7 linked regions of the Homo sapiens genome follow. The protein of the gene in region 7 purifies or fractionates together with the protein of the main gene of each other region. This does not show direct contact. Each region holds a gene or a part of one and is shown on either strand. Other genes may lie near its edges. The genes, in order: DNAJC10, ITGA1, KLRG2, HADHA, NUP50, RCL1 and PTPN2.

The links.
Region 1: the proteins of PTPN2 (region 7) and DNAJC10 purify together in Homo sapiens (affinity purification with mass spectrometry, with the first as the bait; one large-scale study listed by BioGRID). This does not show direct contact.
Region 2: the proteins of PTPN2 (region 7) and ITGA1 purify together in Homo sapiens (co-immunoprecipitation; one study listed by IntAct). This does not show direct contact.
Region 3: the proteins of PTPN2 (region 7) and KLRG2 purify together in Homo sapiens (co-immunoprecipitation; one large-scale study listed by IntAct). This does not show direct contact.
Region 4: the proteins of PTPN2 (region 7) and HADHA purify together in Homo sapiens (affinity purification with mass spectrometry; one large-scale study listed by BioGRID and IntAct). This does not show direct contact.
Region 5: the proteins of PTPN2 (region 7) and NUP50 purify together in Homo sapiens (affinity purification with mass spectrometry; 2 studies listed by BioGRID and IntAct, with this or other methods). This does not show direct contact.
Region 6: the proteins of PTPN2 (region 7) and RCL1 purify together in Homo sapiens (affinity purification with mass spectrometry, with the first as the bait; one large-scale study listed by BioGRID). This does not show direct contact.

The regions. Positions count from the first base shown.
Region 1 is NC_000002.12:182,792,111-182,794,964, forward strand, and holds the end of DNAJC10 (dnaJ homolog subfamily C member 10 isoform 1 precursor), read left to right. Parts: 3' UTR 1-2,354; downstream 2,355-2,854. UniProt on the Homo sapiens protein: Endoplasmic reticulum disulfide reductase involved both in the correct folding of proteins and degradation of misfolded proteins.
Region 2 is NC_000005.10:52,916,916-52,920,415, reverse strand, and holds part of ITGA1 (integrin alpha-1 precursor), read right to left. Parts: intron 1,685-3,500; coding exon 1,518-1,684; intron 85-1,517; coding exon 1-84. UniProt on the Homo sapiens protein: Integrin alpha-1/beta-1 is a receptor for laminin and collagen. It recognizes the proline-hydroxylated sequence G-F-P-G-E-R in collagen. Involved in anchorage-dependent, negative regulation of EGF-stimulated cell growth.
Region 3 is NC_000007.14:139,456,174-139,459,673, reverse strand, and holds part of KLRG2 (killer cell lectin-like receptor subfamily G member 2), read left to right. Parts: intron 1-3,500.
Region 4 is NC_000002.12:26,192,633-26,196,132, forward strand, and holds part of HADHA (trifunctional enzyme subunit alpha, mitochondrial precursor), read right to left. Parts: intron 2,601-3,500; coding exon 2,460-2,600; intron 2,007-2,459; coding exon 1,938-2,006; intron 1,141-1,937; coding exon 945-1,140; intron 1-944. UniProt on the Homo sapiens protein: Mitochondrial trifunctional enzyme catalyzes the last three of the four reactions of the mitochondrial beta-oxidation pathway.
Region 5 is NC_000022.11:45,177,425-45,180,924, reverse strand, and holds part of NUP50 (nuclear pore complex protein Nup50), read right to left. Parts: intron 2,688-3,500; coding exon 2,025-2,687; intron 1-2,024. UniProt on the Homo sapiens protein: Component of the nuclear pore complex that has a direct role in nuclear protein import. Actively displaces NLSs from importin-alpha, and facilitates disassembly of the importin-alpha:beta-cargo complex and importin recycling.
Region 6 is NC_000009.12:4,791,462-4,795,743, reverse strand, and holds the start of RCL1 (RNA 3'-terminal phosphate cyclase-like protein), read right to left. Parts: upstream 2,801-4,282; 5' UTR 2,653-2,800; coding exon 2,517-2,652; intron 1-2,516. UniProt on the Homo sapiens protein: As part of the small subunit (SSU) processome, it plays a role in 40S-ribosomal-subunit biogenesis in the early pre-rRNA processing steps at sites A0, A1 and A2 that are required for proper maturation of the 18S RNA.
Region 7 is NC_000018.10:12,825,238-12,828,737, forward strand, and holds part of PTPN2 (tyrosine-protein phosphatase non-receptor type 2), read right to left. Parts: intron 708-3,500; coding exon 573-707; intron 1-572. UniProt on the Homo sapiens protein: Non-receptor type tyrosine-specific phosphatase that dephosphorylates receptor protein tyrosine kinases including INSR, EGFR, CSF1R, PDGFR.

The sequences.
Region 1 (2,854 bases), on a different chromosome or scaffold from region 7:
AATACATGTTCAAAGAGTAAATTAAAGAAAAAAGAGATGCTCAAGTCAATTTATAAGTAATCCTCACAAATGCTTGCATACCATCAGTGAACAATTATTTTTTTATCTCCATGCTATAATCTTGCACAAGTTTCATTAGAATTAAATGCACTATCTGAAGTCTATGTTTATTAAATGAGGATTACAGTAGTTGGTTATCTTTGTGAGGGGTTTTGAGGGTTGTGGAACAGGATAACATTTTGAGGTACAAAAAATAATGAAGAGGATATATTCCAATTTCTTTCCTTCCCCAAGGCTTTTCATTACAGCTGTTATAAACCCTGGTAGAATTGATTGGTTTCCTTTTCAGCTTCCTGTTTTGTCCCTCAATGTTCACAAAAGTCCCATCTGATAAATGTATTGTTTAACCTCTCATTGTTTGAAAGAACACCTCTTTGCTCCCCACAGATTACAGACCTATTGGCTTAAGCAGTCCATCTAAATGCATGCCAGTTTCTTTCTTGATAAATTAGAGGCCTATAACCTCAAACCAGTTTATCTGCAAGAGAAGTGTGTGAAGTTAGACTCAATTCTTCCGCTAATGGAACATCGTAATCCTCCTTGTCATCTTTCCTTTGGCCTTCCTGAATAGAAATCATTTATGAGGAAGTTACATGAGCTCAACATGAGCCCCATGTCACTCAGCAAACATTTATTTGAGTACTTACAATGTGCTAGGCTTTGTTCTATGCATTTAAGATAGTGTATTAAATGTATTGACCTCATGAAGATTCTATTCTCGCAGTGGGGAGATAGACAATAAACAATTAATATAAGCAAATGTTAAGTATGTTAGAAGTATGTTAGAAGATGTGCTGTGAAATAAAGAAAAAGGTAGACCAGGGTATGAGGGATTAGGAGTGTGGGGGCAGCAGCAGGAGAGTTTCGGTATTAAATAGGGTGGACAGGGCAGGTCTCTTGGAGAAGATGCCATTGAAGGAGGTGGAAAAAATGTAGCCACTAAATGGGCTGAGGGTAGAGCATATGAACAGAGAGAAAGGCCAGAGGACAGGCTCCAAGGCATGCTTGGCAGGTTCAAGGAACAGCAGGGAGGCTCATGTGGCTGGAATGGAGTGAGCTAGCAGGAGAGAAGATGAAGTTAGAGGGAGAGAGAAAGTGGGGAGCCAGATCATAGAGGGCTTTGCAGGTCACTTGTAAGGACTTTAGCTTTCTAACTTTTGTAAGGACTTCAACTTCTACTCACAGTGAAATTGTGAAATTCCAGAACCAAAAAGAAGATCCTGGTAAAAGAGAAACTTTCAGCAAAATATATTTAACATTTTATTTGAGTGAAGAACAATTCATCCATCAGGCAGCACTGAGAACCAGAAGACATTCAGAGAGCTCTGCTTTGCGAGGTATGCAGTGAACATTCATAGACAGAAAACAAAAATTAAGTACAGAAATAGCTTGATTGGTTACAGATAGGCATTTGCCTTATTTGGACATGGTCTGCTCCAAATAAGGCAAGTTGGCAGCATGCAATTGGCTGTGACCTATCTGTTACAAAAATATATCTATATAATCCTAAATTAGGTTTCAGTTTATTTAAGTACTAAATTAGGTTGCAATTTATTACATGGGAACTCAAAGTCTGGAGACAGCCTCAGGCCAAGGTCCTCTTGCTTATTTAATTTAGCAATCCTAAAATTTTCCAGAGAGGAAACACATCACACACACACACACACACACACACACACACACACACACACACACTACCTACAAAAAAATAACAATTAGAAAGTAATTGGAGCTTGAAGTATTCTAGAAGACTTTGGAGCAAAGCCTTCCAAATTCTGAGAGGAAAATATTTTTAACCTAGGATTCTATTCATACCTACCCAGACTAACAAGTAGCAGGCAGATGATAAATATATTTTTAGGTGGTTAGGTGATGAAACACCTCCTCCAAATGAAGGCATAAACAACAATGCATGGGGATCCAAGAAACAGTGACTCCAACCCAAGAGAGCAGTGAACAAATCCACAGGACAGCAGCTAAGTAGGAGGCCTAAACATCACCTGGGGCAGATGGGGCGAGAGAGCAGAGAGCTTGGGAAAGAAGTCTCTGAGGAGAAAGAATGAGGCAATAAGTCAGATGCGTATTTGCGGACCTCAGAAAAATTTGAGTACATAGGAAACAATAGATGAAGGATAGAAATAATCCATTCAGATTCTCTCCTTTGCATGATGACCACATTAAACTTACAGAGTAAGAAATGTCATTCTAGATTTGATTCTACTGTTTGTCTTTGCAGTGAGCTATGTTTTTTTATAACATGTAGAAGTGAAATAAACTTGTCACAAAAATGCAAATTGTGTCACCAATTTTCAGCTTAACAACATAAAAATAATTATATACACTGACCCAGGTTAAGGACGGGTAGAAGTACGAATGTCCTTATCTTCCAGAGTGAAGTGAGGCTGTAGTCAGGCATTGCAAACTCACATAGTTAAGGGTGTTTTGTAGGTAAAGTACATGACGGTAGTTAGTGCATGCACTATTTTAAAAAGGCAGTAGTTTCTCTGCTCCAAAAGAGTATTGTCATGAAGAAAGAGACCCAGATGTTCCAGTTTACCCAGAATTTACCCCAATCCGGGTTTTTATGTAAAATATTTCAAATGTTCACAACTACTTAAAACATTTAAATATATGAGGGTCAAACAATACCATATCCAGCCTGGGGTTTCCAGTTTGTGACATTGCTACAGCAGATGGATAAGAAAATGAAGTAAGGTGTTTGAATGTATGAAATTAACCAGTATAGATGTTAAACTGGCAGCAGCAGCTCTAGAGTATGGAAGGGCCATCCGGT
Region 2 (3,500 bases), on a different chromosome or scaffold from region 7:
TTTGAACCTTTCTCTCTTGAGTTCCAGAGAAAAAACTTCGTGATATTTGTCTTAGTGAATCTAGGGTGACACGGTACTGCAAATCTACAAAAATTTTAAAAAATAATTGATGGAAATGTTTATTTGAAGTGATTCTCATATTGTACAGATTATTAAATTAGCATTATAGAAAAATCTCTTTGGCAATCAATCAAAAAAGATTCTATTGTTCAGCATATCCACACTGTTATAACAATGATATTAGCAGTCATGAAGATAACCTTGAGGAACTCTATAGAACTGGTCTCTGAGTTCACTGTGCTTTCAGTGTCTAATTACATTTATTGTTTATAATTCTTATACACACATGCACACCTGCCTATCATCTAATTGCCAGGCCACCACTGTATTTATTATATTTTCACTTAAAACATTCTTTTTAAGTTTAGAAATGTTGGAACCCTGCTTAGAATATTGATTATGTTATATTTCAATAGGGACAAAAATATACTTTAGTTATTTATTTACAAATATATACATTTTAATCTATTTATATATAAAATGACATTATCTCAGCTTATGGTCAAACCACTATTAAGGTTCAATAAAATAAGCATACCACAATAAAGAAAATAAATGAAATCTTACACTGTATATGAAGGCTACAATATTCCTTATTTGATCACTTAATTACTTTGCAAAAATTAAATAAGACTGAAATAAAGTTACATATAAAACTCAAAATCATTATTTTATGTTCTTATACCTCATTGATCTTTCTAGTCAGGAGGCTATTTCAGAGCATATACATGCACATATGGAACAAATCAAGAAAAACAGATTTTAAGGATTAATGGCTTTTCTCATTCTGCTTGTATTTGGTTACAGAGTAAATTTCTCTTCTTTAGCCAATGGCCTTTATAGCTTTGATTCGAGCATATTTCAACATCATTAAAAAGCTGCCTTAGAAAGTGGAGAACGGAGGGAGGAAGAGGAAGCACAGGCTGACCTGATGCACCTGAGAACACACACACAGAACAAGTCTGACTCTCGGAAACTAGGGTCACCTCAATGGAACAAAGGATCTCGGAAATGTGGGAATGGTAAAGTATTAGGGTTCTCTGCAATATCAGTCTTTCCCAAGAGGGGGCAAGAGAAGGGAGAGAAGAGTCATGGTAGAAACCTACAGGAAGGAAAACTGGGCCCATTTGTAGCTCAATTTCTAAACTCTACCTCTGAATCGGTATTTTTTTCTTAAGCGTCTCATTGTACATAGCAAGTAGGAGAGCCAGACAGAAACTATGGAGTGTTGAGGGCACTGCATACAAACATGTAATTTCTGCTCCAGAATTGACTGGGTTCCATAACCTATTCCTTTTGCAACAGAATTTTTTTTCAAGGTTCTGCATCTTCACTGGGGCAAATATGACGTGCAGCTCACCATGTGGGGAAAATACAATATCCTACTGGACTTCATCATGCTAGAGCAAATATATTGTCCTCTACCCAAAAGTACTTGCTATAATTATTTTGCTTACCAGCTTCATAAATCGTGTCTTCTTTAGACTTTAATTTCACATCAAAACACACTGTAGCATTTATGCATACTGTTTCCTTTCCCTCCATATGGCAGTTTTTCTTTTGAATATTCACTTTATTTGGCTCAAAATTCATGGTCACTTTAACTACGGCCACATCTCGGGACCTACAAACAAAAACAATGGGATTACTCACACATTTTTACATTTAATGAATGTCATCAACTTGGGAGTGCAAAGTGAGTGCATGGAAGAGGGTTCTGCTTCATGTATAATACAGCGCTCAGGACTCCATTTCTTTAATTAATCATTGTTACAGAAGAGATTATATCTGATGTTCTAAGACATGTAGGTTATATTTGGAAACCATTTGGGGCTTTTGGTTCAAACACCAAAGATCTAGTTTTTCCTGTGATGGAAAAGAGATGGAATCAAGTGTCCAGGTGAAACCCCAGAATCAACTGTATTTTGGGGATTTACGAGTTTGTTCCAAATTTGAAAGAAGTCTAAAGGTCCCTGAACAGCCCGTAGACCCCTGCTATCTCTTGTCTGGACTGTAATATTGTCTGTCCTTGTGAGTTCAGCTCTTCCTCTATTTCTAGGAAGGAAAAGCAAAATAACATTTGAGGCATTGTGCTAGACATGGATGCTATTTCATTTAATTCTTAAGGTTAATTATAAGCAACATCATTTTTTTGTTTTACGTTTGATAACTGGGGCTCTGAAAAGTTAAATATTTTATGCCAGGTCAAAAGCTATTAAGAGGAAAAACCTGGGATTTTAAACTCAGTCGTTTTAACTCGAAAGCCCAGTAATGTCTACTAATCCAAAATGAGATCAGAGTAAGATCTCAGACATGGAGAATATATGGATACTGAGGTCATTGTCTTAGATCCAAGCCGGAACAATTACTGCACATTTTTACCTGGTTTCTGCCTTGTGGCCAGAGCTAGCCCCTTATAACTGTGTATGTTGTGAATAATGAGGTCACTACTTATGCTTTTGCATTAAAAAAAGGTGGTTTTCTTTTTTCTGTTAAAACAATGGACTCATAGAAAATATAAACATCATAGAAATGCATAAAGAAAACACAAATAACTTGTTATACTACCACTCAGCAATAATCATCATTAACATTTAGTACACTCAGTGGTTTTTTCTTTACAGAAGAAAACATGCATACACGTACACACATGCATACATACATATATACAAAAGCACATCTTCATATGTATGCCTACAAATTTTTAAAACATTATATTACAATGAACAGCTTTCCAATATTTACATTTTTCTGAGAACATTATTTTTAATGGGATTTATTATTTTTAATGGAAGCAGACTATACCAGCATATGCACATACCATAATCTATGCATTCAATCCCATCTCATTGGATATTTAGCTTAATTTAAAAAAAAGGTTTCTGAGTATAGTGGTAAATTTAACATTATTAAAAGATGGTATTACATACAGTGCTGTGATGACACCTTTAATTGTACTTCTAGATTGTATCTTTACATTTTTAGGAAGTTAAATCCTTGGTAAAAAGTAGGAACATTGGAATGCTTTTAAACACTTATTGATAAAGACCTTCGAATGAGTTTTAGCCAGTTTACCCTTTCATCAGCAATGAATGAACATGCCTAGTTTCCTGCTTAGTAATATGGATTCTCCAGGCATGAAGCTGCCTCGACCATTGTCCACCCCACACATCCTCTCTGCCCCAGCCAGATCTTTCTTGGGAGTCAGTCCAGGTCTCATGACAAGACTCTCACTATTTGCTTCCAAACGTTTTTCCTATCATCTGTCACTTGTATCCACTCTCACTTCTTGTTAGGCATTGTGAATCTTAGTCTTCGTGTCCCAGTATATCGGTTTGGTCCATTCTGCTGTCAGTGGAGCCTGGACTATGATAGGGAAATGACTATCATTTTGGGCCATCAATGCCTTGATTTGGGGCAGGAGAGGCCATAAATAAGTT
Region 3 (3,500 bases), on a different chromosome or scaffold from region 7:
TATGCTGTGAATGGGGGAATATGCCAGGGCACCAGTAGCCTGTGAGGGCAAGAGGAGCTCAGTAGGGATCAGTTTCTGCTCAGCGCCTGGGCTGGGCCCTGAGGTGTTGGCGTTGAGATGGGAATGGGCTGTGCAAAGAAAGCACCCCAGGCTCCTGTACCAAACGACTCAGACTGGTTGTATCTGCAAATTGAAGGCCTGTAGGAATGTAGGTGGGACCAAAGGTGGTCTCTAGAGTGCCTAGAGTTAGGGCCAGGAGCCAAGCAGGGCGGGGATCATATTGTTGCAGGGACATAGTTCATCCCATTACTTACTTATGGAATCCCATCGCTTAAGACTGATGAACATAGCATTTTGTCCTGAGACAGACAGATTGAGCACAGCAAATGCCAACAGGAAGCCAGTAAAACGGGCCTCACATCAGACAGGTTCACCTCAGATGAGCTTAGAACTCCTTGTTGCCAATGGGGGGAGGTGGGTTTAACTATCCAAATTGGAAACAGAACCTGAGATAAAGAATTTAACAAAAAAATGCATACAGCATCAATCATTTGAAACATAAGTAAATCTGCAGAAAACATATCATAGTCTGGGTAAACCCCTTCCCTGCAAAAAGACCAACGCTAAGATTCAAGATCTAGGCAGTTAAAATCTGGAATATAATGATTGTGGAACTCTGGAATTTTCCTGAGTTCTGGACAAGGACCGGAAGCTCCTGCAGGTGCTGAGGCAGGGTGGGGAGGACAGGACACACACGCAGAAGCAGCGCGCACAAACCCCAGGAACGCACCAGGGCCAGGGTGCCCAGAGGTACAGGATAGACGTGGCTCATCTTCCCAGAAGCCTGTTTTGCTCAGGATTAGTGAAAAGTAGGAAGTTGTAAGTGCTCACCATTAGTTTAATAACAACTTTGCTTTGCAGAGTGGAGGAGGGAGGAAGCTACCTTAACAGCACACACTGAACTCGAGCCCGATGCTAATTTCAAAAAGATTAAACCATTGAATACATTTACATCCTAGGATTAAGAAAAGTAATTTGAAACATTTTAATATTAAAACAGACATGGATGAAGATAGAGAGTAGAATGGCTGTTGCCAGTGCAGCGGGGGATGGGGAGTTGTTTAATGAGGACAGCTTCAGTTTGGGGAGGTGAAAAAGTTCAGGAGATGGATGGTGATGATGGTTTTACAACAATGTGGATATACTTCATGCCCTTGAACTGTACACTTATCATGGTTAAAATGGTAAATTTTATGTCATTAAACTTTTTCTTTCTTTCTTTCTTTTTTTTTTTGAGACAGGATCTCTTGCTCTCTCACCCAGGCTGGAGTGCAGTGGTGCAATCATGGCTCAGTGCAGCCTCGACCTCCCGGGGTCAAGCCATCCTTCGGCCTCAGCCTCCTGAGTAGCTGGGAGTACAGGAGCGTGCCACCACACCTGGTTAATATTTGTATTTTTTGTAGAGACAGGGTCTCACTATGTTACCCAGGCTGGTCTCAAACTCCTGAGCTTGAGTGATCTGCCCTCCTCAGCCTCCCACAGTTCTAAGACCACAGCTGTGAGCAGCCATGCCTGGCCGTGAATCTTTTATCACAATTTTTAAAAAAGAAATGTATGAAGGCATAGGAAACAATTTTCTATAATTTTAAGACGTAAAATATGAGATTTTCAGTCCATTCTGCTCAGGATCACATTCCCTCTCCCCATATTAGTGGAAAAGTTGGAGAATCCACAGTTAAGGAGGCCTCAGGATCTTTTGCACAGAGCAGTCCTTTTAGCCATAAATTACTTAGTAGTTCCCAGAGTTTATTTATAACTCTGAACAATGCCTTCCCTACACCACCATTTTTGCTAACAATGAGATCAGGAGTCTCAAACGCAAGGAAAAGAAGAATGGAATGGAGTGGGTGGGTCTAGGCGGGGCTGGGGCTCGGGGGAGGCCTTCAGCTCCCGTCACCAGGAGGCCCAGAGGGGAAGGGTGAGAGAGGCAGATAGCTTGGGGCTCTGACAGAAGGACAGGGTCCTCTTGAGGTTGCTGTAAGCATCAAAGGGGCTCATGTGTGTAGGAGGCAGGTCACAGGCTTTGCCCATCACATGTCAGACGCGAGAGGACATGGGATGAGTGTGTACTAGGTGGCCGTGGCTTTATATGTTAGTATCTCAAGCCTCATCACAAGCATCTTCGTTTTACAGACGACCACACAGCGGCTCTGAAAGGTTGGGTAACTTGTCTAAGGTCATGTGGCTCACAAGTCATGGAGCCAGAATTTGCATATGGGGTAGCCTGGCTCCATCTCAGCCCCGGAAGAGGCACTGAGCCCTGGTGTGCCTTCCCAAACAGGCAGCTGAGTGCTCCCAGGAAGACGGTGTTGGGCCGCTCAGCCCTCTGACTCACACCTCAGAGCAGCCTGGGGCCCTCCCATCCTCTCCAAGTTTCCCTGCCCAGCCCCACCCTGGGCCCCAGTGTGTCCCCGAAGCACCAGCCAAGGAACAGCTGCCCAGTGTACATTCTCTGTTCCGTCCACTCACCACTCTCCATTTTCCTATGCACTCTGGTCTTTAGGATTCAAGAAGGGTAAGATTAGCAACCTTCAGCCTGGGAAGTTGCCCCTGACTTCTCTCTGGGCTGTTAACTGACTGGTGCTAACCTTGAGGGGCAGAAGATGGGTTTTCCGTGACACTTCTGGGATACACAGTGGCCTGATGGCCTGGTCTCACTGTGGCTCTGCTGATTTTTGGCAGTGAGCGCGGGGAGGCAGTTTCACTGAGTTGACCTACTGTGTACTGGGTTATCATAGTGCGATGCTGAGTAAGACAAGCTCCTGGCCCGCACCAGGTTCACCAACTAATACAGGAAAGTGACAAGGAGGCAAGCCATTAGAAGGCAGCACATGAGTGGTGGCACGCACCAGCAGTCCCAGCTACTTCGGAGGCTGAGGTGGGAGCATCGCTTGAGCCCAGAGGTTCAAGGCCAGCCTGGACAACGTAGTGAGATCCTGTCTCTTAAAAAATAAAAAAGAGAGGCTGGGTGCAGTGGCTTATACCTGTAATCCTAGCACTTTGGGAGGCCGAGGTGGGTGAATCATCTGAGGTCAGGAGTTCAAGACCAGCCTGGCCAACATGGTGAAACCCCATCTCTACTAAATTGGGCGTCATGGCAGGTGCCTGTAATCCCAGCTACTTGGGAGGCTGAGACAGGAGAATTCCTTGAACACGGGAGACGGTGGTTGCAGTAAGCCGAGATTGTGCCACTGCACTCCAGCCTAGGTGGCTGAGCAAGACTCCGTCTCAAAAATAAAAATTAAAAAAATAAAAATAAAAAAGAGACAGCTCTATTCTGTGAAAGTTGTGGAAACCAAGGGGAGGGAGGAGCACCTATTTCACCTTGGAGAGGGTCAGCCCAGTGTCCGTTAAAAAAGCCACCTTTAAATCAGTTCTGAAGGATGGAGGAGGTGGCAGCAACAGGACAATCATCACTCTAATTCCCAGGGCTTGTCTTT
Region 4 (3,500 bases), on a different chromosome or scaffold from region 7:
AAAATTAGCTGGGCGAAGCAGGAGGATCGCTTGAACCCGGGAGGTGGAGACGAGATTATGCCACTGCACTCCAGCCTGGGCAACAGTGTGAGACTCTGTCTCAAAAAAAAACAAAAAACAAACAAAAAAGACCCTGACCTGAGAATTCTTGTCTCTGTTGGTCTATTATAAAGCTCTGGCCTCTTCTGAATTCCTGAATTTGTATGTCTAGCTAACCCTAGCAAATTAGTCTTTGTCAGAAGAGTGGGCAGAGAAGGAAAGAAGATCTTGTGACCCGGAGCTTGGGCATCTGTGTACATGGATGAGAAAGGCCACCTGGGTGAGTTTTAACATCCCCATATGCAGCACCGGGTCCTAGAACACCCAGGTTGTAATGCTGATTTTGCTGTTTTGCCAAGACAGAAAGTCACTTCTCTGTGGGCCTCAACTGTATACTGTGTATGGTGAGCTTATACATTCTCCTCACAGGTGGCCAGACAGCATGGTAAAGCCCGGATGCAGAGCTTGCTTCTGCACTATTGCAGATTTCATCTCTGGGGGATAAAAATGCTTGTCCATCTGGCATAACTTGGACCAGGTGATGCTAGAGCCCCAGAAGGGTAGAACTCTGCCTTTTGTCCATAATCTATAGTCCTAGCCCTTAGAAGGTTCACATGACATCTTTTTTTTTTTTTTTTTTTGAGAAGGGGCCTCGCCATGTTGCCCAGGCTGGCCTCACACTTCTGGGCTCAAGCGATCCTCCCACCTCAGCCTCCTAAGCAGCTAAGACCATAAGTGGTTGCTACCGCACCTGACTCATAAAATCATTTTTGAAATCGCCAGTGATAAGGGCTCTGTGTTTAGAAAACTTTCTTCCACGAGGGCTTCTGTAACTCTTTGGTCTCAGGAACTGCTTAGAACTTTGTAACTAATGGTGCTAGTTATGTTTCCTTGAGGCTACTCACCTAGGAAGCCCTTGGACACCATCTGTGTCAGCAGTTCTGGGTTTCCACCTCCAAACCGCTCCCCAAAGACTTTGCCCAGATCTTCCGCCACATGTTTCGCTACATCCACACCAACTTCATCCACCAGTGTGGCGGCACCCACAGGAAAGCCAAAGCTTGTGGTCAGGGAATCCAGCTTCTTCGGGTCAACTCCTTCCTGAACAGGAAGCGATGCAGGGACCTCAGGGGAAGGGCAGCCCAAATCCCCCCAAAGGGCTCCCTGTACTGGCTCCAAACACTGCCTTGTGTAAAACCCACTTCTGAGTGTCACCTGACCAGGCCCAGGACTGGTGCTATTTCATTCAGGGAAGCACAAAGAAGTTTGGGGCCACAAGTGGAAAGTCTGAGCCTTCTCTAATCTACAGCACTTTAAGGACGTTTAGAGATGACTAAATTCTTCATTTTCTTCTTGTTTGCATTTCTGAATCTCAATAATAAGGAGATTGCATGACAGACGGCTGAGTGTGTCATGACCAACAGAAGAAACATCATCAAAGAGGAGCACTCAGAGCCCTGTGATCCCCAAGTCTGGGTAAGTGCCCAGCGAGGAGGATCCCTCTCCTTTCCTGCCAGAATGACCTCGATGGCTACTGGAGAGGTCTGTGTGCTGTGGAAACAGATGCAGCACCAGTTGAACCAAGCGGGCCCTGTTCTGGATGGTCCCTGCCTCAGAGAGGTGCAGAAACAGCATAGAAGACATGCTGGGGGGTGGGGTGCCTTTAGCTTGCTGGAACAGTGAGGAGGCTGTGGGGCAGAGGGAAAGCTCTGCCCCTTTCAGTGCAGTATAAGCCCAACTTCCGACTGCTGTGCAGAGAGAGGGCACCAGGGACCTTCCTAGACAAGAGCAGGAGTTGGTGTATCAGAAGGAAGCTTGGTCCTTATCTTGACATCATGAGTTTTAGAGTGACTGAAGGAGTGGAAGATGCCGCAAACACTCTGGAGAGCAATACCAACCTGGAGGATTCGGATGACTTCAGACATCATGGGCGCAAGACACCTGGTAGTATAGAAGCCAGGTCCATCCTGCCAAGGAAGAGAACATGAGCTCCCTGGCCCTGCTGCTGGGACTGAGTCTGAAACACTCTACCTTTCCCAGGGTCACTTCAAAGTCATTTGAAAGTCACTGTAAAACTTAAGGTGACTTAAAATCTCAATCAGAATCCTTAAAAATGAAATTGCAGGGGAAGCCGTACTAGGGGTAGCCTGGCTTGAATCAAACAGTACAGCAGATAGTTTCATGGTCACCTTCAAGGTCTGGGATGGCTGGGAGAACCCTGCCACATCCTAGATACTCCCCACTCCCACCTTGACTCAGTGGGACAGTCAATACCACCGTCCATCCTGGAGACAACCCAGGGGAAAATCATATCAAAGTCTGGTCATTTGCCCCAGAATATTTATAAACAAGCCTGGAGGTAAAAGGAGTCTTATTAGAACTTTTCAAAAACTCTGCAGCTCTGTTATACAGCCCCTTACCTTAACCACAATGATGACCTTCCCCTGCTTGAGACCAACTGCTACAGCTGAAGCACTGGTGTCTTTGGAAGTTTTCTCGGTCGTGATAATCTCCAGCAGCTGCATCTTGTCCACGGGAGAGAAGTAGTGCATGCCAATCACCTGGCAAGGGGAACCAAAAGCCAACAGATCGGAGAATGCGGGTGAGGAACCTGAGAGCATTCCTTCTCTGCTAGGAAAACACTAGAAAGAAAGGTGGCTGTGATATAGGAATACTGCTTGACATAGCTGAGTGGTTTGGTTCCATGGGTCTTTGATAAAAGTTTAGTATGTTTAGGGAGAGCACATTGGAATCCTCCTCTTCCATTTGCTTCTAAGGTTTTTCACTACAGACATCTGATCCTCCCAACAATCAGTGCCAAAACCACAGCTCGAGGCCAAACTAGATTTATTGGGGAACGACGGATGAAGGTTCCACTTATATTAATGATACTGATGGTTTAGATAAGAGGATCCAGTTTTTTTGGGCGGGGGTGGGGCAGGCAGAAGAATTAATGTGTTGGGCTGTCAGAGAAGTATTTGCATTTTACACAGATGGGTCTCACCACCAGGATACTAGGTTTAACTAACACTCCTCAACAGTCAGATGCACTTAAGACTCATTAAACCAGCAGTTCTCCAAGTGTAGTACCCGGACCCAACAAGCACTGTCATCACCTGGGAGCGTTAGGCCTGCACATTCTCAGGCCTAGCCCAGCCCTACTGAATCAGAAACTCCATGGGTGGGGCCCAGATTTGTTTTAATAATCCCTCCTGGTGATTCTGATGCGTGCTAAGGTTTCAGAGAAACCCCTCATTGAGCTAACAGTTACATAGTCTTCCCAACAGAACTGTGGTGAAAGAAGTCTAATTCATTAATTTATAGTTTTGCTTTCTCCCTCTCACTTTAGCTATAAGGTACAACAAGTGATATCTGTAATTTTTGGCTGCTCATTATCTACCTGCTCTTCAATACATTTACCACTTATTCCTTACATTTAATCCATTACAACCCTATGAACT
Region 5 (3,500 bases), on a different chromosome or scaffold from region 7:
ACCTTCACCCCTGAATATTCCTGTGACTACATCTACAAGTATCAGTAATAGCCAAAGATAGAAAAATACTTTTTTTTTTTTTAACAGGGGACAAGTTGTCAGAAAAATCATTCCAAAGCCCCAGTGTAAGTAATTTAAGCTTTGTCTGAATTGCCACATGGGTCACTGCTCTGGTACCAAAGGTATCCCCACTAACGGGGTCTCCCAAACACGGGAGACCTAGGCCATCATTTAAACACATGTATTAGGCTGTGTACAGTGGCTCACGCCTGTAATCCCAGCACGCTGCAGGGCCAAGGCAGGAAGATCGCTTGAGCCCAGGAGTTCAACACCAGTCTGGTCAACATGGTGAGACGCCCCCCATCTCTACAAAAAATAAAAAAGTTAACCAGGTGTGGCGGTACGTGCCTGTGGACCCAGCTACTTGGCAGACTGAAGTGGGAGGATTGCTTCACCCCAGGAGGTAGAGGCTGTAGTGAGCTATGATTGCGTCACTGCACTACTAGCCTGGGTGACAGAACGAGACCCTGTCTCAAAAAAATAAAAAACCCCACATATATAAAAGGATCCTCTTAAAGAGAACGGCAGTTGCATAAAAACTCACCAAAAAGCAATTCTAAGAAAAACAACTGTGATGCTCAGATGATTAGGTCACACGACTGTCCGTCTTATCCCTCCAATCTCCCGAGTCTTCTGATGCTTAAACTGTGATAACCAAGGGACAAGGAACAGGCGCTCACTGAGGGGCATCCTGCCTCCACTGGGACTCGATTCAAATCCCCAGTGCCTGCCTCAGGAAAGACTCCCCATTTGTTTTATTTATGGGAGGCAGAGAAGAAAGAAAAGGGGAGACCCTTATTTCACCCTGTGCCCAGAGGGCCCGTGCCTGAGGATATACTTGAAAGCAGGGCAAGGCAAAACAGTAATGGAAGTCTAGACTCCTGATAGAAAACCGTAATATTTCAGAGGCAAATTGGCAAATGCAGTTTTCTTCCTCAAGGATCAGTATGTCCATATGTCTGAGAAGTACACTTTTTCTTTTGTTGAGGCAAGGTCTGTGCTGCCCAGGCTGGAGTGCAGTGATGCAACCACGGCTCATGGCAACCTTGAACTTCTGAGCTCGAGATACTCCCACCTCAGCCTCTAGAGTAGCTGTGACTACAGGCGCCCACCACCTGGCCTGGCTAATTTTTAAAAATTTTTGTAGAGATGGGGTCTTGCTATGTTGCCCAGGCTGGTCTCAAACTCCTGGCCTCAGGTGAGCCTTCCACTTTGGCCTCCCGAAGTGCTGGGATTACAGGTGTGGGCCACCTCACCTGGCCTCACTTTCAACTGCTTAGAAGTAGGTGTCTTCACAGACATCACCTGTTCACAACCACCATGTGAGGAAGCAGCATCATGACATCACCCCACTTTTTAAGCTAACAACAGAGGTCTGGAGGGCCCAGACCTTGTGCCTTGTCTGGGGCACTGACGATACACACAGGAAACATCACTTAGACACCACTGCCACGCTCTGGAAAGGAGGCGCCTCCAAACCCACAGGAGGAAAACAATGTTGATTTCTTCTCTATGGCTATGAAAAGTCTACATTTGTAATGTATAGTCAAGTACTGTTTTGCCACATGACTTTATTTACAGTGAGATCTCCTAAGTACAAATCAATTCAGGGGACATTCATGATGAACTTGATGAACTTTTCCAAAAACACAATTTTCAAAAAACGTCTTTAATTCACTTGTTTTTTATATGCTAAACCATGTGTGTTTGAGACTTTTCAAAGTCAGGTGTTTTCAAATTCATTTTATTTTTAATCCTTATAAACAACCCTACAAAAGTCTTACTCTTTTATAAAGCAGGAATCTGAAACTCAGAGAAGCTGATTAGCTCTGTCTGAGATCACACATGGAGAGAACAACGTCTCAATGTGAATCCAGACTCATATTTGGAATCAAAGTCTCTGGGTTTCCCAAGAAACAAGAATCTTATGCAAACCTCGACTCAACGACAAAGCTGGTACTTACCTTTGCATTCACCACTGTCACCTTCTGCTTGGCCCTCCAATGGTTTAGTGGGAAATGGTGAAGAGACTGGTTTACTCTGGGTAGTATCTTTGCCAAATAAACTGGAGTTTCCAGGGGAGAAAGAAAATCCAGTCAGGGGGACAGAGCTTAATGAGCCCAAAACAGAGCTATCAACTTTCTTGCCGAAATTAAATGAGGCACTTGTCGCTCCTAGTGATGATGGGTCCGTTTTCTTTTCAGATGCCACCTCCATCTTCTTGTCAGGTGTATCTTCAGTTTTGTTGCCATGAAACAAAAACGTTGACTCTTGCTGTAATTTTGTTGAGCCAAAAAGGGAAGGAGACTGTGTTTCAGCTGCCACTTTGTTAGATTCACTTTCAGAATTCCTGCCACTGTTCCCGTGTTGCTGTTCAATGTTTGCTAAATATTTCTCATAGTCTTTAAAGATAGGTGTCAGATCACAGAGGGGGTTTGTATTCACGTGCTTCACTATCCAATCCCGCACGGAGCAGTTCAAGGCGGCCAACTGCTTGTGATAGGCATTTCCGACACAAGCTTTACTGGAAGCAAGGCCAGAGGAGGAGGGCTGCTGACTGTCCCCATTAGTTTTGGGATTTGAAACTTTATCAACCAAGGTGGTAGGGCCATTTGCAGCAAGAGAACCTATAGAAAGTTAATAATTGAACCATTTATTTAGCCTAATTTGATTAAATCATCTAGATTTTTTTGCCACTCTGCCTTCATACTTTCTGCTTTTACTGTATCTCCCCCCACACCAAGACAGTCTTGCTCTGTCACCCAGGCTGGAGTGCCGTGGCACGATCTTGGCTCACTGCAACCTCTGCCTCCCAGGTTCAAGCGATTCTCCTGCCTCAACCTCCCGAGTAGGTGGGATTACGGGCACCCGCCACCACACCCGGCTAATTTTTGTATTTTAGTAGAGATGGGGTTTCGTCATGTTGGCCAGGCTGGTCTTGAACTCCTGACCTCATGATCTGCCCGCCTCGGACTCCCAAAGTGCTGGGATTACAAGCGTGAGCCACTGCGCCCGACCTACTGTGCCCTATTTTTGTGACCGCTCAAAAAGTATGTGTTCAAGGAGTAGAATTTAGTAACCAGTTATCAGTAAAGCCGATGAATAAAGATCAAGTCAAAGTTTATACAAGAACACTAACCACCATATGCTTGCTCTACACATTTTAAAAATAATCTTTTCCTTCAAAAGGACGCCTATCTGAGATGTGATCGGGCGCGTCGAGGGTGGTGTGGCAGTAGACAAAAGGATGCCTATTTCAAACAGCACTGTTAGAACAGCAGGTCAGCATTAACACTTAATCCCCAAGGTTGTTGGGATGAACAGTATTAAAGTACAGTCGCCCCTCTGTACCTGCAGGTTCTACACCTGTGAAATGCAGTCCTCAGCCAGGTGTGGTGGCTCACGCATGTAATCCCAACACTTTGGGAGGCTGAGGTGGG
Region 6 (4,282 bases), on a different chromosome or scaffold from region 7:
CCAAAGCCCACACCATGAGGGATGTTTTAAGCAAGCACCTTGAAGAGATGTGATTCTTGCATTAGAACTGAAGATTTTATTGGATATGCTCTGAGTTTTTTCCAACTCTGAGAATCTGAGTTAGGAAAAGTCAGAAAGGGACAGATGACGGGCAACATAGGCTTCCGGCTACATCTTCAATCAAGCTACCAAGGACTCCCTTGATTATGACCAGAAATCATGTGTCAGGGACTACATCTATTTATGCGTGCACGTATATGTATATACACTTACATGTATGTGTATACATATACACATATACATGTATATCTGCAAATGCATATCTATCTCTCTGTTCCCTCTGTAAGAAATTAAGCAGACAGGCTGGGCGCAGCGGCTCACACCTGTAATCCCAGCACTCTGGGAGGCCAAGGCAGGCGGATCACCTGAGGTCAGCAGTTTCATACAGCCTGGCCAACATGGTGAAACCCCATCTCTACTAAAAATACTCTACTAAAAATTAGCTGGGCATGGTGGCAGGCACCTGTAATCCCAGCTACGAGGGAGGCTGAGGCAGGAGAATTGCAGGAACCCAGGAGGCGGAGGTTGCAGTGAGCCGAGATCGCACCACGGCACTCCAGCCTGGGAGACAGAGTAAGACTCTGTCTCAAAAAAAAAGAAAGAAATTAAGCAGACAAACATCTACAAGGTTTCTGAGGCCCTGAAGCCAGCGCAAGGATGTACAAATAACTAGGAGTCTCTTTCTTCCCCTGGTATATGAACGGGGTAAGGCAAATAATGCTCTACAGTAATGTTCCCCATAAAATACCAGCACACCTGCCAAGCAGTTCTACCTCCCTCAGGTATCAGCGTCTGACACCCTTTCAAGAAAGTGCCAAGTGGCCAAGCCCTGTTCTTGGAAGAAACGGGAGCTCATATGTGTGAGATGCTTTGAAGAGATGCTCACATACAGTGGAGGGGGAGAAGGAGAAGCATACTTTGGAACATTAAATATTAAATTGGAGGCCACCTGTCAATAGAAAAACTCTAAATAGAACTAGATTCATTTTAGAGAACCCAGGTTTCCAGGCTATACTTCCATTTCTCTGGAAAAAAAAAAAAAAGTTATGCCTACTTTTATACAAAGTAGAAGTCCATCTTCTTACCATATCCAGCTAGTGGCAAGTTCTCTGAGCTAACCTGAGGGTAAAGTGGATGGAGAGCTGGCTGAGAATGCCACACAGCAATCAAGCAAACACTTTGCCCAAGGGTCAAACTAAGTGGAACACTTGTTGACGGAAAAGTCGTGGCATAAACCATTTGTGGTCTCTCCCTAACTTTCTCAGTGTTTTTGAGCAGTAGAGAGAGGACAGGAACCACCAACACAAGTTTTTCCTACCATCACTAGGTTTCTCACCACTGTACCTGGGATATTCTGCTTCTTTCCTTCCTAACCTATCTCCGTCAATAGCATGGCATCTTCTGCCCTTTATGTGCAGCCAATCACCACCCAAGAGAGGCAGAGATCTAACTATCCAAAAAATGCATTCAGACAGATAAAACAAGAGCCAGTGCAAAATGAAACACATCAGCGCCGCTCAGGAAGCTTCCAGGACCAACCACAAACACTCTTTTTCAATTTACAGACAGGTTTTTTCCTTTTTCACCTGACTACTGACTCGCCCAACTTGGGATAACCACCAGTCAGAAGCTTTTAAATGCATGTATCTCATGCCAGGGGGCCAGGTGTAAACCAAGGCCAGTTGAAAACCGGCGCCATTTAATGAGATGTGGGTTTAAATGGGCCTATTTCTTTTTAACCTACCATTGCAGAGCAAGAAGTGAGCTTGGAAGCCTGCAGTTTAGCGATTGTCACCGACCCCTTTTCTAAAGTCAAGGCAATTAGGCCCATGACTGTTAAAAGTCTATCTCAAAGCTCCTGTCCTGCGCACATCAATCACAGTCACGGCTGAAAACAAACACAGAATTTTAAAAATTTCTTTATCCACACCCAAGGACAAGTGTGAGGGCAGCCGAGAAATCATGGCGACAGGAACAGCCGGTGTCCAAGGGGGCAGCTGCTTCTGAGAACTGCTTTGAGACAGGGCAGAGAACCAACCCAAGGTACTTTTCTCTCCCAATGTCTCTCCCCCGGCTCATTCACCATATTTCGGTCCAACAAACTGTTTTTCTCCTTTGAGAGGTTTATGGCGAGGGCAAGAGGGGCCGAAGGGACGCGAAGGGGCGACGCCAGGGATTTGTTGCTACACGTAAAGCTGGAAAACGTGCAGCTGTTTACTACCAGCGCCCCGGAGACGCCGAGCGCAGCTTGCAGCTGAGCGCTCCCCTCGGGCCCCGACCCCGCCTCCCCCACTGTGCCTGCCCCTCCGGCTTTGGAGGCGACGCGCCACCTGCCCTCCCCGACGCGCTCGCCGGACGCCGAGCCGCCCAACCAACACCGCGCGGGCCCCCACGGCATCAGCTCGGTCTCCCCTCAGCCCCCGCGCCCACGCCGCGCGCCGCCCACACCAAGTTACCTCGGAGGCCCGGGTTGTCGTCTCTGGCCCGAATCTTTCGGATTTTGACGGGGCGCCCGCTCAGGGTAGACAGGACCAGACGTTGGCGCAAGAAGTTGCACCCTGCGTAGCTGAGGGAGTGCGCCTGAGTCGCCATGTGCGCGCTCTCCGAAGAGACGTGAGCAGCCCGAGAGCGGCGACTTCGGACAGACGCGGGACTCGTGACTCCGATGGTGGTGGTGGCGGCGACACCGACGGCGGCGGCTCGGGCTGCCTCCAGCAGCCCAGACGCGTCCACGTGGTTTGGAACAGGAAGACGGAGAGACTAGACACCGGGTCAGAGGGGAGCGGGGCGGAGCCAGTGGCCACCTCCCCGCCTCCCCGCCCGACCGGGGCGGCCCCCGCTTCGGGCCACGCCGCTATTGGCCCGCGCCGGATCAGGGCGGTGCCCGCGCCGCGCCTCCATTGGCTTCCGCTGAAGCTGGGCGGTGCCCAAGCCGCGCTGCCATTGGTCCGTAGTGGAGCTGGGCGGTGCCCGGGCCCTGGCAACAGCGCGCGGCTGGAGGGAACGCGGGAGGATGGCCAGGGAACCCCGGCGCGGGAGTTGCCAGTCGGGGCAGTCTCCTCTGTGTACCTCCTGGCGTGGTAGCAAGGGGAGATGGCGGACTGAGATTGATGCCTACGACGTGCCGGATTCTTAGCATTACTACTTACGGCAACTACTGGGGTGAAGATGCTATTATCTACCCCTCCTCTTTCTTACTAAGAGAGACAACAAGGGTTGGTGCACTCACCCTATCGCAGGGATGCCGCTCAGCGCACTGCCGGCGCAGTCCCGCAGCTCCATGCTGTAACCCTGCAAGGTAGAGCCATCCTGTCCTACTCATGGATAAAGGCTCGAGGAATATTGCAAAGCTGACAGTGGCAGCCTATACTGAGACCCGAATCCTCCCACAGCAGGCCGTTGCTTATTTTATTGAGACACCTCTTTGCCCCTTTCTCACGGGTCCCTTCGTTTATCGTCATTGCGTTTCATGGCAATTCAGGCCCTCCTACCTCGCATGCTTCAAGATAGATAGTTGTAATAACTTCACACACACACACGCGCGCAATGCTTTTTCCCTCTTTCCCGTCCTCCTCCAATCCTGCACAAGAAAATCTTCCCAAACGTTGGATTATTTCACTTCTCTACTCAAAAACCTTCCAAAATGTACAGTTAACTAACAAATGACTACACAAGTAGAAGTCCGATATCATAGTAATGTGGGTTTGTAGCCATTCCTGGACAACACTCACCAAACCATGAGTCCCAGAATGCACGGGGGTTCGCGGGGGGAAGGGGGGCGGGGTATGATAGTGTCTGAAAGCGGTGGGAGTTTAAGATTAAGGGATGTAGCTAGCCTTATGTAGACAACAGTGTGTTATAAAGTGGAGTGGAGTGGCATGCTCATGACTCACTGCAGCCTCAACTTCCCGAGTTCTAGTAATCCTCCAACCTCAGCCTCCCCATTAGCTGGAACTACAGGTGTGCACCACCATGCTCAGCTAATTTTTGTATTTTGTATAGACATGGGTTTTTGCCATGTTACCCAGGCTGGTCTCAAACTTCTAACCTCAAGCGATTGGCCCACCTTGGCCTCACAAGTGTGAGCCACCACTCCCAGCCTTTAATCCATTTTTCTTTGATTTTTGTAAATGGCAAGAGATAGAGATCTAGTTTCACTCTTTTGCATATGGATATCCAATTTTCTCAGCATCATTTATTGAAGAGACTGTCCTTTCCCCAG
Region 7 (3,500 bases):
AATAGGGACAAATTTTTGTGTTGTGAATCACTTAACAATAGCTTTGTAAGTTATTTTCTTGACTATTTTGCTATTCTTGGCAGTCACAGGTCCTGGGAGCTATTGCTTGCTGGGCATTTACTAAGGTCAGGTGCTCTGCATACACATCCTCATTTGACCTTCAGGACAGCCCCGGAGGGAAGGCGTGGTAACCTCCATTTTACAGATGAGGAAGGGATCAGTGAGGGTGGGGAACAAGTCTAAAGTACAGCTCTACTAAGCAGCAGAGCTGGATCTGAATCCAGGTTTGCCTGATTCTAAAGCCCTCTCTATTAATCCTCATGTATTTCTATTAATTAATTTTTAATCCCCAAATATCAAACTGAACTTTGAAATTCTTAGTTTCTACTGTTTCTTCAGAGTCCTCAGAAAGCTACTAGATGCAGACACACAATCTAAAAACACGTGATTATGGCTAGATACTATAGGAATTATCCAAATGCATGTGCTTATCAAACTTCAAATCTAATAATAAAGAATAATTCTTTAAACCATCATATAAAGTCCACAATTTCGGGCAAGAAAGGTCTTACATTGATATTTTCTAATTGTAGTAGATGTACTGTATAATACGACTTCACATCTTCTGACAAGAGCTTCACACTGAATCCTGTTTCTTTAAACAGCATCTCTTGGTCATCTGTTGGCCAGTACTGTGCACATTTAACCTAAATTTAGAAATATGTATATGATTTTTTTTTAGTTTATAGACATCATGAAACCATAAAGTTAAAAAATGAAAACAAACCAGATATATACATGCTATATTTTTTCAAGTACCCAAAACTAAGAAGTCACTACTATATTCTACGCTTAATGTATTTTAGTAAGATTGAAATTTTATAGCCGGGCGCGGTGACTCACGCCTGTAATCCCAACAATTTGGGAGGCTGAGGCGGGAGGATCACCTGAGATCAGGAGTTCGAGACCAACCTGGCTAATATGGTGAAACCCTGTCTCTACTAAAAATACAAAAACTAGCTAGGCGCGATGGCGGGCGCCTGTAATCCCAGCTACTTGTGAGAGTGAGGCAGGAGAATCGCTTGAACCCAGGAGGTGGAGGTTGCAGTGAGCCAAGATCATTCCACTGCACTCCAGTCTGGGTGACAGAGCAAGACTCCATCTCGGGGAGCAGGGCGGGTAGAGATTGAAATTTTATAAAGCATTTTTTATGTGTGTGCAGTCATCACTGTAAGCCAGTTTTAGAACATTTCTCTCAGACTCAGAAATCCCCTTGTGTCCTATTCCCACTCCAAGCCACAGGCAAGCACTGATCCATTTTCTGTCTCCATAGGCTTTTCTTTTCTTTTGAGCTGGAGTCTTGCTCTGTCGCCCAGGCTGGAATGCAGTGGCGTGATGTTGGCTCACTGCAACCTCTGCCTCCTGGGTTCAAGCAATTCTCCTGCCTCAGCCTTCTGAGCAGCTGGGATTACAGGCGTCTGCCACCACACCCAGCTAATTTTTGTATTTTTAGTAGAGACAGGGTTTTGCCATGTTGGCCAGGCTGGTCTTGAACTCCTGACCTCAAGTGAACCACCAACCTCAGCCTCCCAAAGTGCTGGGATTACAGGCGTGAGCCACCATGTCCGGTCTTATAAGGTATTTTTTAAGTGTTCCTGTAACTTATAAACTAAAAAAGCCATAGGTATCATATTCATAAAATAAAAATAAATTTATCATTCTTAAAGCATGATTACCTATATTTTAACGTCATGGGACATTCACTTTATGTTTCTAAAATTATCAAACTCTTGCAATAATTTTATCTTCAAAATAAATGTTGCTGGCCAAGCGCGGTGGCTCACGCCTGTAATCCCAGCACTTTGGGAGGCTGAGGCAGGCGGATCATGAGGTCAGGAGATCGAGACCATCCTGGCTAACACAGTGAAACCCCGTCTCTACTAAAAATACAACAAATTAGCCGGGTGTGGTGGTGGACGCCTGTAGCCTCAGCTATTTGGGAGGCTGAGGCAGAAGAATGGCGTGAACCTGGGAGGCGGAGCTTGCAGTGAGTCGAGATAGCAGCACTGCACTCCAGCCTGGGCGACAGAGCGAGACTCCGTCTCAAAAAAAAAAAAAAATAATAATAATAATAATGCCTTAAGAGGAAAATAAATAATTTTTTTTTTTTTTAAGAGACAGTGTCTTGCTCTGTAGTAGCCCAGGCTGGAGTGCACTGGGGTGAACTTGGCTCACTTCAGCCTCAATCTTCTGGGCTCAAGCAATCCCCCAACCCCAGCTGGGACTCCAGGTGCGTGCCACCACACCTGGCTACTTTTTGTATTTTTTGTAGAGGCAGGGTCTCACTTTGTTGTCGAGGCTGGTTTTGAATTCCTGGGCTCAAGTGACCCTCCTGCCTCAGCCTCCCAAAGTGCTGGGATTATAGGTGTAAGCCCTCCAACCTGGCCAGAAAAAAAAAAATTTTTTTTAAGTAAAATAGAAATAAAGAGATAAACAGGATTAAAGAGAACGTGACAAATAAAAAAGGTAGGCAAAGAAAATCCAACATACGTATAATAGGAAGACCCAAAGAAGAACATTAAAGCAAGCAAGGGAGCAGAACAAATACTAAGGACTGTAATTCAACAAATATTTCTTTAACAAAAAGTATTTAAAAAATTTTAAAAAGTACTTGAAGTCAAACTCTCAAGAACACATCATGTACCTGTAAAAACTGACCCAGAATGGCCAATTACTAAGACATATTTTTGGTAAAACTAATAATATCTGAAGAAAAAGAAAAAAAGAATTCTTTGGGTAGTGCAGATAAAAAGAACAAGAGACTTATAAAGGAAATAAGATGTCCATTAGACTTTGGTGGAATACCAGAAGGAAATGGAAAAAAAAAGTTGTTCAAAGAATAGCACATGAGCCAAGGATTTTATATCCCGCCAAACTGACTTTCAGATATTAAGACAGCAGATGAACCATCACTGACATGTAAAAAAATCAGACTATAATGCTCACAAGTCCCTCCTTAGGAGCCACTAGAGAATGAGCTTTAGTCAGAATGACTGGAGAGACATCAGCAAAGACTGTTGATGAATATTAAATAATGCTTGCTTGTAGAACTAAGAGTCTACAAGAGATGTAAGGGAGAGACTACAGTTTGTAAAGTACAACTCAGAAACACCAGGAAGAGAATGAAAAAAATATTAAAAATTGTAAACCATTTTCAGTAATTATTTTGGTAGCAGATGATATCATGATTATGGTTATATATTGTATATGATATGGGAAGAAGGAAATGAGTCATTACAAGATAGTTTACATCTCTCATATCTTTGAGAACCAGGATTCTTGGTATGAAAAAGGAAATAGCAGATGTAAGATGGAAGGGGCTAAGCAACACTTATAGTTCCAAATTTGAACTGGGAATATCATTATGAACTCTTGAAGTATGTTATCTTAACATATGCATATTGTTCCTTAGCTTTTGTCCACTGAAAAGCCCTAAAAAC